Linked DNA regions of Homo sapiens. The protein of the gene in region 1 interacts with the protein of each later gene in a biochemical or structural test. Each region holds a gene or a part of one and is shown in the gene's direction. Other genes may lie near its edges. The genes, in order: SHROOM4, PBK and ABCC4.

What was found.
Region 2: the proteins of SHROOM4 (region 1) and PBK interact in a test that uses a peptide from one of them, tested with the Homo sapiens proteins (one large-scale study listed by IntAct).
Region 3: the proteins of SHROOM4 (region 1) and ABCC4 interact in a test that uses a peptide from one of them, tested with the Homo sapiens proteins (one large-scale study listed by IntAct).

What each region holds. Positions count from the first base shown.
Region 1 is NC_000023.11:50,604,686-50,608,336, reverse strand, and holds part of SHROOM4 (protein Shroom4), read left to right. Parts: intron 1-152; coding exon 153-956; intron 957-3,651. UniProt on the Homo sapiens protein: Probable regulator of cytoskeletal architecture that plays an important role in development. May regulate cellular and cytoskeletal architecture by modulating the spatial distribution of myosin II.
Region 2 is NC_000008.11:27,827,763-27,831,413, reverse strand, and holds part of PBK (lymphokine-activated killer T-cell-originated protein kinase), read left to right. Parts: intron 1-3,215; coding exon 3,216-3,309; intron 3,310-3,651. UniProt on the Homo sapiens protein: Phosphorylates MAP kinase p38. Seems to be active only in mitosis. May also play a role in the activation of lymphoid cells.
Region 3 is NC_000013.11:95,291,339-95,294,989, reverse strand, and holds part of ABCC4 (ATP-binding cassette sub-family C member 4), read left to right. Parts: intron 1-3,651. UniProt on the Homo sapiens protein: ATP-dependent transporter of the ATP-binding cassette (ABC) family that actively extrudes physiological compounds and xenobiotics from cells.

The sequences.
Region 1 (3,651 bases):
TTATTATAATATTATTATTACTATTATTACATTTACTACACATACTACATTGTTTTGTGGACATTTTAAATTTTATATAAATGTTGTCATCCAAAATATGGGCCTATCTGCAACTTGCTTGTTTTTCTCAGTACTCATCTGATGTTTTGCAGGGAAATGGCTCATTCCAAGACTAGCTTTTCATGGGCAACCCCTTTCCATCCTTGCCTTGAGAACCCAGCACTGGACTTGTCAAGCTACCGAGCAATTTCTTCTCTTGACCTCCTTGGAGACTTCAAACATGCTTTGAAAAAATCAGAGGAAACTTCAGTTTATGAGGAGGGGAGCTCCCTTGCCTCCATGCCCCACCCACTGCGCAGCCGTGCCTTCTCAGAGAGTCACATCAGCTTGGCGCCCCAAAGCACCCGGGCCTGGGGGCAGCATAGGAGGGAGCTCTTTAGCAAAGGTGATGAGACCCAGTCGGATCTTCTCGGAGCCAGGAAGAAGGCCTTTCCTCCTCCTCGCCCTCCTCCTCCCAACTGGGAGAAGTACAGGCTCTTTCGTGCAGCCCAGCAGCAGAAGCAGCAACAGCAGCAGCAGAAGCAACAGGAGGAGGAGGAGGAGGAGGAAGAAGAAGAAGAAGAGGAAGAGGAAGAGGAGGAGGAGGAGGCAGAGGAGGAGGAAGAGGAGCTGCCACCCCAGTATTTCAGTTCAGAAACCTCTGGTTCCTGTGCTCTCAATCCTGAGGAGGTCCTAGAGCAGCCACAACCCCTCAGCTTTGGCCACCTGGAGGGCTCGAGACAGGGTTCACAAAGTGTCCCAGCAGAGCAAGAATCCTTTGCACTCCATTCCAGTGATTTCTTGCCTCCAATAAGGGGTCACTTGGGATCTCAACCTGAGCAGGCTCAGCCCCCTTGCTACTATGGCATTGGTGGGCTTTGGAGGACATCGGGACAGGAAGCCACTGAATCCGCCAAGTAAGTACATATGAAAGATACTAGGTCTCTGAAGAGGCAGGCAGCACAAGTTTGAATTTTACCTCCACTATTTACTAACTGGATGACCTCAGGCTGGCCAGTTAAACTGCTCCCAGCCTCAGTTTTCTTACCTGGAAAATGGGTATAATGATACTTGCTTCACATGATTGTTATGAATATTAAGATAATCTACATAAAGGATATAGCTCCATGCTTAGCACATAGTACATGCTCAGTAAATATCATGTTCTTATCCCTAAATATCTTTATTAAAGTACTATACTTTTCCTTAGTGTGTCTTCATGGTATCCATCAATTTCTGGCCCCTGATCCCAAAGGCATTGAACACTTGTTGCCTATACTAGGTCTTTCCCAGAAACCTGGCTCAGGCACTTTTCCTGCCTTCTCTTCTGCTTGCCCTCCAGAATAAGAGGCCAGCTCACAACCTGACCTGCCTCTGCTCTAGGACAAGTAGCCTGGGCTTCTAAACTCGTCCCCCCACAACCACCAGCATCAAAGGTATTCCTGGGGCTGGGTGCTTCATGCCTTGATAATTCCTTACAATAGATAAGGACATTCTTTTTCTCTTCCACTTTCTCCCCCTCCTTGTTTACCTGCCTCTTTGCATTCATGTGGGTGTGTAATAGGTGGTAGTTGACAGGGTGAGCTGCCTGGGCAGGGAGGCCAAAGCAAGAGTGTGTTCTGGCAGCAGGACTGCCAGTGTTTGTTCACTCCACTGAGCCAGTTGTCATCTGCATGCCCTATAGTGCATGGTTGGGTTTTTTTTTTTAATTTCTTTTGCTCCAAAGCAAAAGCCCCAGGACCATCATTGCTATTATTGCTCAGTGCTCTGGCTGTCAGCAGCTCCACCTGCTCTCCTGTGGAGAGCTCAGCCCACTCTCTGCTGGGGCTGAGGTTCGGGAGGCAGGTGGCTTATAAGTGCTTTCCTTAACTCTCTTTATAGCAGGAATTTGCCTGAGACTTGTTGCGGTTAGAAGTACCTTGTTATCATGTCTTTTATTGTCAGACAAATCTGTGACTTGTCTATGTGGAGCTAGTTGATCAGTTTTCCAGCCCAAGATGCCATAAGCACAGCATTTACAGGGCCTGGCTCCCAGGCACTGTTAAGAATCCTTCATGAGGGGGGGAGGGGGGAGGGATAGCATTGGGAGACATACCTAATGCTAGATGATGAGTTAGTGGGTGCAGCGCACCAGCATGGCACATGTATACATATGTAACTAACCTGCACAATGTGCACATGTACCCTAAAATTTAAAGTATAATTAAAAAAAAAAAAAAGAATCCTTCATTAGATCCCATGTGGCTGCTTCTCAAGCTGTTCTTCTACCTGGGGAGCATTCTCATTGTAATTAGAAAACATTTTGTGAAAAATACCTGTGATTGTTATCTATCATAGCAGGGAAAAGGGAAAATGACCTCCCAATAGTAGGCACTTAACAAATATTTAAGAAGAAAGAACAAATAAATGAATGGATGAACATTTATTAAGTATTTCTTATATACCAGACACTGCCAGACATTATGTATCTATTTCATTTAATCCTCCCAATAGCCCTATTAGCCATTATTATCCCCATTTGACAGATGAGGAAACTAACTAATTCCAAGTTACACAGCAAACATTCAAAGCCAGAGCTGTCTGACTCCAAAGCCCATGCTTATTTTGCCTTCCTAGGCAGCCTCTCCCAGAGAGATCTTGTTCTTTCCATAGGCCAGGAGTCACAGGGTCCTCTTCTCTCCTGTAGGGCAAGGTGTACCAGAGGCAGCAGTTACAAGCCCTGGTTCTTCCTTCTTTGTGTAGCTCCCTTTGCCTTGGCACCTTGGCCAGACAGAAAGAAATCACTATTACTAGAGATCTTGTAACTTGCTCCAGAGATTTATTTTTAATGACTCTAGGATGTAAGGGAAAACATTTGTTTGCACACAGCTCTGCTTGTGACTACAAAATCAATTAGATGCTCCTTTGAGTGATGGAGATTTAAGGAACAGCATCATTCCCAAAATAGCTAATTTTTTTGATTGCTTACTATGTGCCCTGCATTGTTCTAAGCACTTTGGGTAATGATTGATTTAATCATGAAAATAAACCTATGAAATAGTTACCATTCATCTTCTCCATTTCTTAGATGAAAAAAGCAAGGCCCAGGGAGATAAAGTAACTTTATCACAAGATCTCAGGTAGCTCACTATGCTTGCTATATCATCCCACGATCTCTGGGCTCTTGAAGAAGATTCTATTCCAGACCCTAGGAGAGGACAGTGTCCTAGCCAGAAGGAAGCAGCTTTAAGATTTTGTAAGGGACATATAGATGCATAATATTTTGAATCTAAAATGCAAACAAAGATATCCTAATTTCAGCCAAGTTAAACTCTAGTACCTTTATAACCTACATACTGTTCTGTTAAAAAATGCTGGGATACACACAGAAGCCAGCTAGTGGAATAATTAAGTATTATTTAAGTCTAATAACTGATTCAGGTATAGGTATAGCTTGCTTTATGGACTCTATGCATTTCCTCTCAGTGCTCTGTGAAAGGAATCTGCTTTTTGCTTTGATGTTTACTACATAGACCACCTATAATCACTTCCCTATTAATGGAGGTGATAAGGAAAGGATCCCTAGAATATAGTGCCTAATGTGATATACTATAATATGATGCAGGGATGTGT
Region 2 (3,651 bases), on another chromosome or scaffold:
TTGAAGCTTTGTTATTAGGTACATACACATTTAGGATGGTTATTTCTTTTCTTTTTCTTGTTTTTTTGAGTTTCCTTTTGTCACCCGTAATGGAGTACAACAGTGTGATCTCGGCTCACTGCAACCTCTACCTCCTGGGCTCAAGTGATTCTGGTGCCTTGGCCTCTGGAGTAGCTGGGATTACAGGCGTGCACCACCATGGCCGGCTAATTTTTGTATTTTCAGTAGAGACAGGTTTTCGCCATGTTGGGCAGGCTGGTCTCAAACTCCTGGCCTCAAGTGATCCACTCTCCTTGGCCTCCCTTTCAAGTGCATGCAACATTCACCAAGACACATAAACCACAAGTCAGATCCCAAAGTGTTGGGATTACCATGCCTGGCCTAGGATGGTTATTTCTTTTGATGAATTTATACCTTAACTGTTACGAAATACCCTTCTTAATCCTCAGTGGTACTCTTTGTTCTGGAGTCCACTTTATGTGATAGTAATGGAGCCACTCCAGATTTATTTTGATTTGTGTTTTAATGATGTTTTTCAACCCTTTACTCTTGCCCTATTTGCGTCTTTATATTTAAATTGAGTTTATTATAAATGGCATGTCTCGTCTTGTTTTTATCCGTTCTGACAACTTTAATTTCCTTTAACTGGACTGTTTTGCCATTAGCTACATGTGGCTATTTAAATTTGGTTATTTAAATTTGGATTATTAAATGTGGTTATTTAAATTTGGATACAAATTAATTAGAATTAAATAAAATTACAAATTGAGTTCCTCAGTTGTATTAGTCACATTTTAAGTGCTCAGCGCTCAGACAGCACAGATATAGACATTTCCACATGGCAGCATGATGTATTGGACAGCTCTGTTTAGACCATTTATACTCAATGTAATTGTCTATTGTTGGATGTAAATCGGCTGTTTTGCTATTGTCCCATAGCTCATTGATGATTTTTTTCTAACCTTTTTCTCTCTTTGCTTCATTTTTGATAGTTTTTGTTGCTCTGTCTTAAGATTTAGTTATTCTTCTGCTCTAAGATGATGTTATTCTTATCCATTGTATTTTTCATTCCTAAGCTTCTATTTTGTCTTTTTTTTTCCGTTATGCTCAGATTTTCCTTTGTATCATTGAGCACATTTTTAAGATTTGTCTTAAGGTTCTTATCTGCTAATTTTGCCATTCCTGTCATTTTTTTTTTTTTTTTTTTTCTTGAGACAGAATCTTGCTCTGTCACCCAGGCCGGAGTGCAATGGTGCGATCTCAGCTCACTGCAACCTCCACCTCCTGGGTTCAAGCAATTATCCTGCCTCAGCCTCCCGAGTAGTCGGGATTACAGGCACGTGCTACCACGCCCAGCTAATTTTTGTATTTTTAGTAGAGACAGGGTTTCGCCATGTTGGCCAGGCTGGTCTTGAACTCCTGGCCTCAAGTGATCCACCTGCCTCAGCCTCCCAAAGTGCTGGGATTACAGGCGTGAGCCACCACTCTTGGCCTCCTGTCATCTTATGGTATGTTTCTATTGATTGATTGATTTTTTAATTTTTTGAGATGGAGTCTTGTGCCCTGTCGCCCAGGCTGGAGTGCAATGGCGCTATCTCAGCTCACTGTAACCTCCGCCTCCTGGGTTCACGCCATTCTCCTGCCTCAGCCTCCCGAGTAGCTGGGATTACAGGCACGTGCCACCACACCTGGCTAATTTTTTGCCTCTTTAGTAGAGACGGGGTTTCACCATGTTGGCCAGGCTGGTCTCGAACTCCTGACCTAGTGATCTGCCTGCCTCGGCCTCCCAAAGTGCTGGGATTACAGGCGTGAGCCACCGCGCTAGGCCTCTATTGATTTATTTTTCTCCTATATTGGTCATATTTTCTTGCTGCTTTCATGCCTGGTACTTTTTGATTGGGCAGTAGATATTTTGCATTGTCTAGTACTGGATTTTGTTATTCCTTTAAAGAGTGTTTGATTTAGTTATGGTCTGAGGTTAAGTTACCTGCACATTAGCCTGTTCCTTTTGAGACTGGCTTTTAAGCTTTGTTTTGAATGTTTATCTGGGGCTAAACTTTAGCTGTACTATCTAGTTGTGACCCTTTAGAGGACTTTACTATGTGTTACAGGGTTACCATCCTCTAGCTCATGGTGATATGAAGTGTTCCTAGACTTGTATGATCTCTGGTAATTGTTGAGCCAATTGCTTTCCTCTGGTGCTTTCCCAGCTTTGGGGCATCTACACATTGTTATGTGCGGATAAGTACTTGGCCAAACACTCAAAGAGAAACTGTTCAGATCTTTGGAGTGCTCTCTTTGGAGCTCTCTAGTTCTCTGCTCCACAAATTCTAGCCGCCTAGTCCTTCTTGACCTCTGATCTCTGTCTCTTCAATGTGACAGGACTTCTGGATTATGTGACCTCTGTCCTGCAGTCTGGAAACTGCCTTCAAGCAGTAAGTTAGGGCAGTGATAGGGCCCACCTCATTTGTTTCTCTTCTCTCAGGCATCACAACACTGCTCTGCCTGTTGTCAAGTGTCTGAAAACAATTATATTTTGTCTAGTTTTCTAGTTAATGGCGAGATGGTAACTCTAGGAGCAGTTAATTGTCCAGGAGTAGTTAATTATTTTTCATGAGCAGAAGCAGAACTCCATCTTTTCATCTTTTTTTTTTTTTTTTTTTTTTTTTGAGACTGTGTCTTGCTCTGTCACCCAGGCTGAACACAGCTCACTGCACCTGCACCCTTAACCTCCTGGGCTCAAGTGTTTCTCCCAAGTAGCTGAGACCACAGGTGTGTGCCATCATTCCTGGCTAATTAAAAAAATTTTTTCGTGTGTAGAGATGGAGTCTCTTTATGTTGCCCAAGCTGGTCTCTACTGGGCTCAAGTGACCCTCCTGCCCCGGACTCCAAAAGCGTTGAGATTATAGGCATGAGCCACCACATCCAACCCCTTTATCTTTTAACAATGTTTTAAAAATGTGAAAACAGTTCTTAGCTTGTAGGCCATACAAAAACAGGCCATTTCCCAATCTCTGCTTCAGAGTTACTGTAGGATAAAACTCCAAAAGTAGGCTTGGTCAAAAGATACCCATTTAAAATTAGGATATATGTTGTCAAATTGCTCTCCAAAAAGACTGTGCCAATTAATACTCTTGGCAGTAGTATATTGAGAATGTTAAGATGCTTTATTTTTATTTTTTATTAATTTTATTTTTTATTTCTCTGACATTTAGTATTATGTTCAACTCCAACTATAAATATCCCGGCCTCTCCGTTTATGCAGAAGCTTGGCTTTGGTACTGGGGTAAATGTGTACCTAATGAAAAGGTAAGTATAAGATTTCAGATTAACCTTTTTTCATGCAACTATAATTCTACTGTACTTGGAGACAAAGAAGTAGTCTGAAAATTCCAGTATTTAGATTCGGTTGTCTGCTCCTGATCCTGGCTGATGGCTGTATTCCGGTCCCTAGACCCTTTTGTAACTTTGCCTGTAGCTCTGCCTCTGCTTTTCTCCTAGCTTCCTCCTGATGGGTTATTAAAGGGGAAGTCATTTACTTTTTAATTTTTCCTTGGCTTCCATAAGAAGGGGAAGTGGCAGGGGAAAGGGTTCCTTTGTGGTAATTAAACCAGATTCTTCATGAGAAAACCTCAAAGAGGAAGCCAGTAT
Region 3 (3,651 bases), on another chromosome or scaffold:
TTATTTTATTTTTTGTTTTTAATTTTTTAATTTTTGAGATGGAGTTTCACTCTTGTTGCCCAAGCTGGAGTGCAGTGGCGTGATCTCGGCTCATTGCAACCTCTGCCTCCGGAGTTCAAGCGATTCTCCTGTCTCAGCCTCCCAAATAGCTGGGACTACAGATGTGCGCCACCATGCTCAGCTAATTTTTTGTACTTTTAGGAGAGATGGGGTTTCAACATGTTGTCCAGGCTGGTCTTGAACTCCTGACCTCGGGTGATCCACCCACCTGGGCCTCCCAAAGTGCTGGGATTACAGGCGTGAGCCGCCATGCCCAGCCTGGACTATGTTTTCTACCCCAACCTTGTGGTCAGAGGTGACCATGAAACTGAGACCTGGCCAATAGGAAGTGGTTGCAAAAGGTGTCTCGCTTCCACGACTGGAACACAAAAACCAGCCCCATGCAACGCCTCTCCAGCTGAATAAAGAGGCCTCCTGGAGAGGAGGAGGACTGAGAGGAGGCCGAGCCGCAAGATGGTGAAAGTCCAGCTAGGAGTAAATGTATGGTGTTGTTCACCACCCTAGATGGCCCAAAAGGGGACTATAGCATGACAATAGGCATGGTCTTGGTTTCTTGTTTTCTTTTTTGAGACGGAGTCTATCTCTGTCTTGCAGGCTAGAGTGCAGTGGCGTGATCTCGGCTCACTGCAACCTCTGCCTCCCGGGTTCAAGCGATTCTCTTGCCTTAGCCTCCTCCCAAGTATCTGGGATTACAGGAGCTCAAAACCACGCCCGGATAATTTTTTATTTATTTATTTATTTTGTATTTTTAGTAGAGAAGGGGTTTTGCTGTGTTGGCCAGGCTGGTCTCCAACTCCTGACTTCATGTGATCCACTGCCTCGGCTGGTGATTTTGAATTAAGCCATTGAGAATCAGGGCTTGTTTAATAGCTAGCATTATTTGCACGATACAGTGGCTGCCTCCCTCATTGTGTGAGCTCTTTGAGAACAGGAATGGTACTTTATTGTAATGGATTTGCACCTGGCAAGAAAGAAGGCACCCTGCCTTCTTTCATGGTGGCACATGCCTGTAATCCCAGCTACTTGGGAGACCGAGCAGGAGAATCGCTTTAACCCAGGAGGTGGAGGCTGCAGTGAGCCAAGATTGCACCACTGCACTCCAGCCTGGGCTACAGAATGAGACTCTGTCTCAAAAAAAAAAAAAAGCAAAAGAAAACGTAGTCCAGGCTGGGTGCGGTGGCTTATGCCTGTAATCCCAGCACTTTGGGAGGCCGAGGCAGGTGGATCACAAGGTCAGGAGTTCAAGACCAGCCTGGCCAACGTAATGAAACCCCGTCTCTACTAAAAATACAAAAATTAGCTGGGCGTGGTGGCATGCACCTGTAGTCCCAGCTACTCGAGAGGCTGAGGCAGGAGAATTGCTTGAACCCGGGAGGCAGAAGTTGCAGTGAGCCAAGATCACGCCACTGCACTCCAGCCTGGGCAACAGAGCGAGACTCCATCTCAAAAAAACATAGTCCGTGTGTCCAGCAGTCGCTGCTGCAGGAGTTCATCCTGAACCCGTGTTGGGTGTGCTGGAGTAGAAGTATGGAAAAGCTGTGTGAGGGTGGGGATTTTGTTTTTGTTTTTGTTTTTTGAGATGGAGTCTCTGTCGCACAGGCTGGAGTGCAGTGGCATGATCTCGGCTCACTACAACCTCCGCCTCCCGGGCTCAAGCGATTCTCCTGCCGCAGCCTCCCAAGTAGCTGGGATTACAGATGTGCACCACCAGGCCTGGCTAATTTTTTTGTTGTTGTTAGAGACAGGGTTTTGCCATGTTGGCCAAGATGGAGATCTCTGGGGAGGGGTTTACCTTCCTGTTGGAGCTTGGATGGAGAAGGTGGGAAATCGTTCCTGGCAGGGGATGAGATGTCCAGGTCACAGAACTGCAGTTGGAGAAAGTGTTGCCTGAGACGTGTGGCGAATGACCACCCCTCAGTCGCTATGTCGTCCCTGCCAGCCGGTAGCGTTTGTTACACCCAAGGTTGCCCTCCCCTCTTTCATCCCAGCAGATGTTCAGACTTTGCTTCTCCCACTTCCAGCCCCTTACTCATGAGTACTTACAGCCCTTTTGTGGCCTGCGACGTAGCTCCTTGTTCCATTTCTGGGTTCCATGACCACTTCCGTGCTGGTCTGTTTCAGGCCTAGTCCCTGTCTGCTCTTTTCTCTGCGCTAGCTCCTATCTTCCCCTTTTCCTTAGTGTCATAGAATTAGTGGGTTGAAAGGAAGAGATCTTCTAGCCCACACTCAGTACAGGAATCCCTTCCAGATACTGGGCAGTGGGGAAATGCATTATGTGACTCTCATGACTTTAGATTCGAATGCCAGAATTATGTTGTATTGAGCCACAGTTTTCTTTCCATGCAATTTCTACTTGTGTTTACTTACTTCTAAGAAAAGCATTACAGAATTTAATGAAGCAAAGAATGATCTGTGAATCAAGCAGCTCCTAGAACCAAAATAGGTTCAGAGCCGCTCTCCTTTGTTTTTTTGTCAACACGCAGAGCAAGTTGGCTACCTCCCTTCATATGCTCGCCTCATAGTATTCAAAGACAGCTATCATGGCCACATTAAATCTTTGTTTCTTTGTTTGAGACAGGGTGTCACTCTGTCACCCAGGCTGGATTGCAGTGGTGCGATCTCAGTTCACTGCAACTTTCACCTCCTGGGCTCAAGCCATCCTTCCACCTCAGCCCCCTGAGTAGCTGGGACCACAGGTGTGTGCCAGCATGCCCAGCTAATTTTTTATATTTTTTGTAGAGATGAAGTTTTGCCATGTTGCCCTGGCTGGTATTGAACTCCTGGGCTCAAGTGATCCTCCCGCCCTAGCCTCCAAAAGTGCTGGGATTACAGGCATGCGCCATGGTGCCTGGACAGGAGTTTATTTTTGACCCTGTTAAGTTTGAGATGCCTGCTACACATTCAAGTGGAGATGTTGAATAGGCATTCAATTGGTCATGAGTTTGGGGCTCATGGAGAAGTTTATCTTATTATTATTATTTCTTTAAATGGAGTTTCACTGTGTTGCCCAGGCTGGCGTGCAGTGGTATGATCTTGGCTCACTGCAACCTCCACCTTCTGGTTCAAGCAATTCTCGTGCCTCAGCCTCCCGAGTAGCTGGGATTACAGGCACGCGCCACCACACCCAGCTAATACTTGTATTTTAGTAGAGATGGAGTTTCATCATGTTGGCCAATGTGGTCAGGAAGTTTATGTCAATTTGGGCATCATCAGTGATACATGCAGTTGAGCTATATTGGACACATGGCCAATTGACCTCACAGTCCGCAGGGCTTGTCCCCATGTAACTGCTCTTCTATCCCTATGCAAATTCATTTTGTAGATGCTAACGTTTAGCAGCTCATTGTTGCTGTTGAAAGTTCTTGGAACACTTTCGTAGTCTGAATGCTAGAAAGGATGGGTCCTAGGAATGTCCTCTAGGTTGTGGCAGATCCACTAATCAACACTGTGGTTGCTAGATTAACTTGGCCACAAGTGTCAAGAGAGGTCGTGTCATATGGAGGTCTGCTTTATGGAAGTCAAGAGGTATTGGAGTATTGGATCACCTGGGCACTTCTGTCTTTTTTTTTTTTTTGAGACAGGATCTTGCCT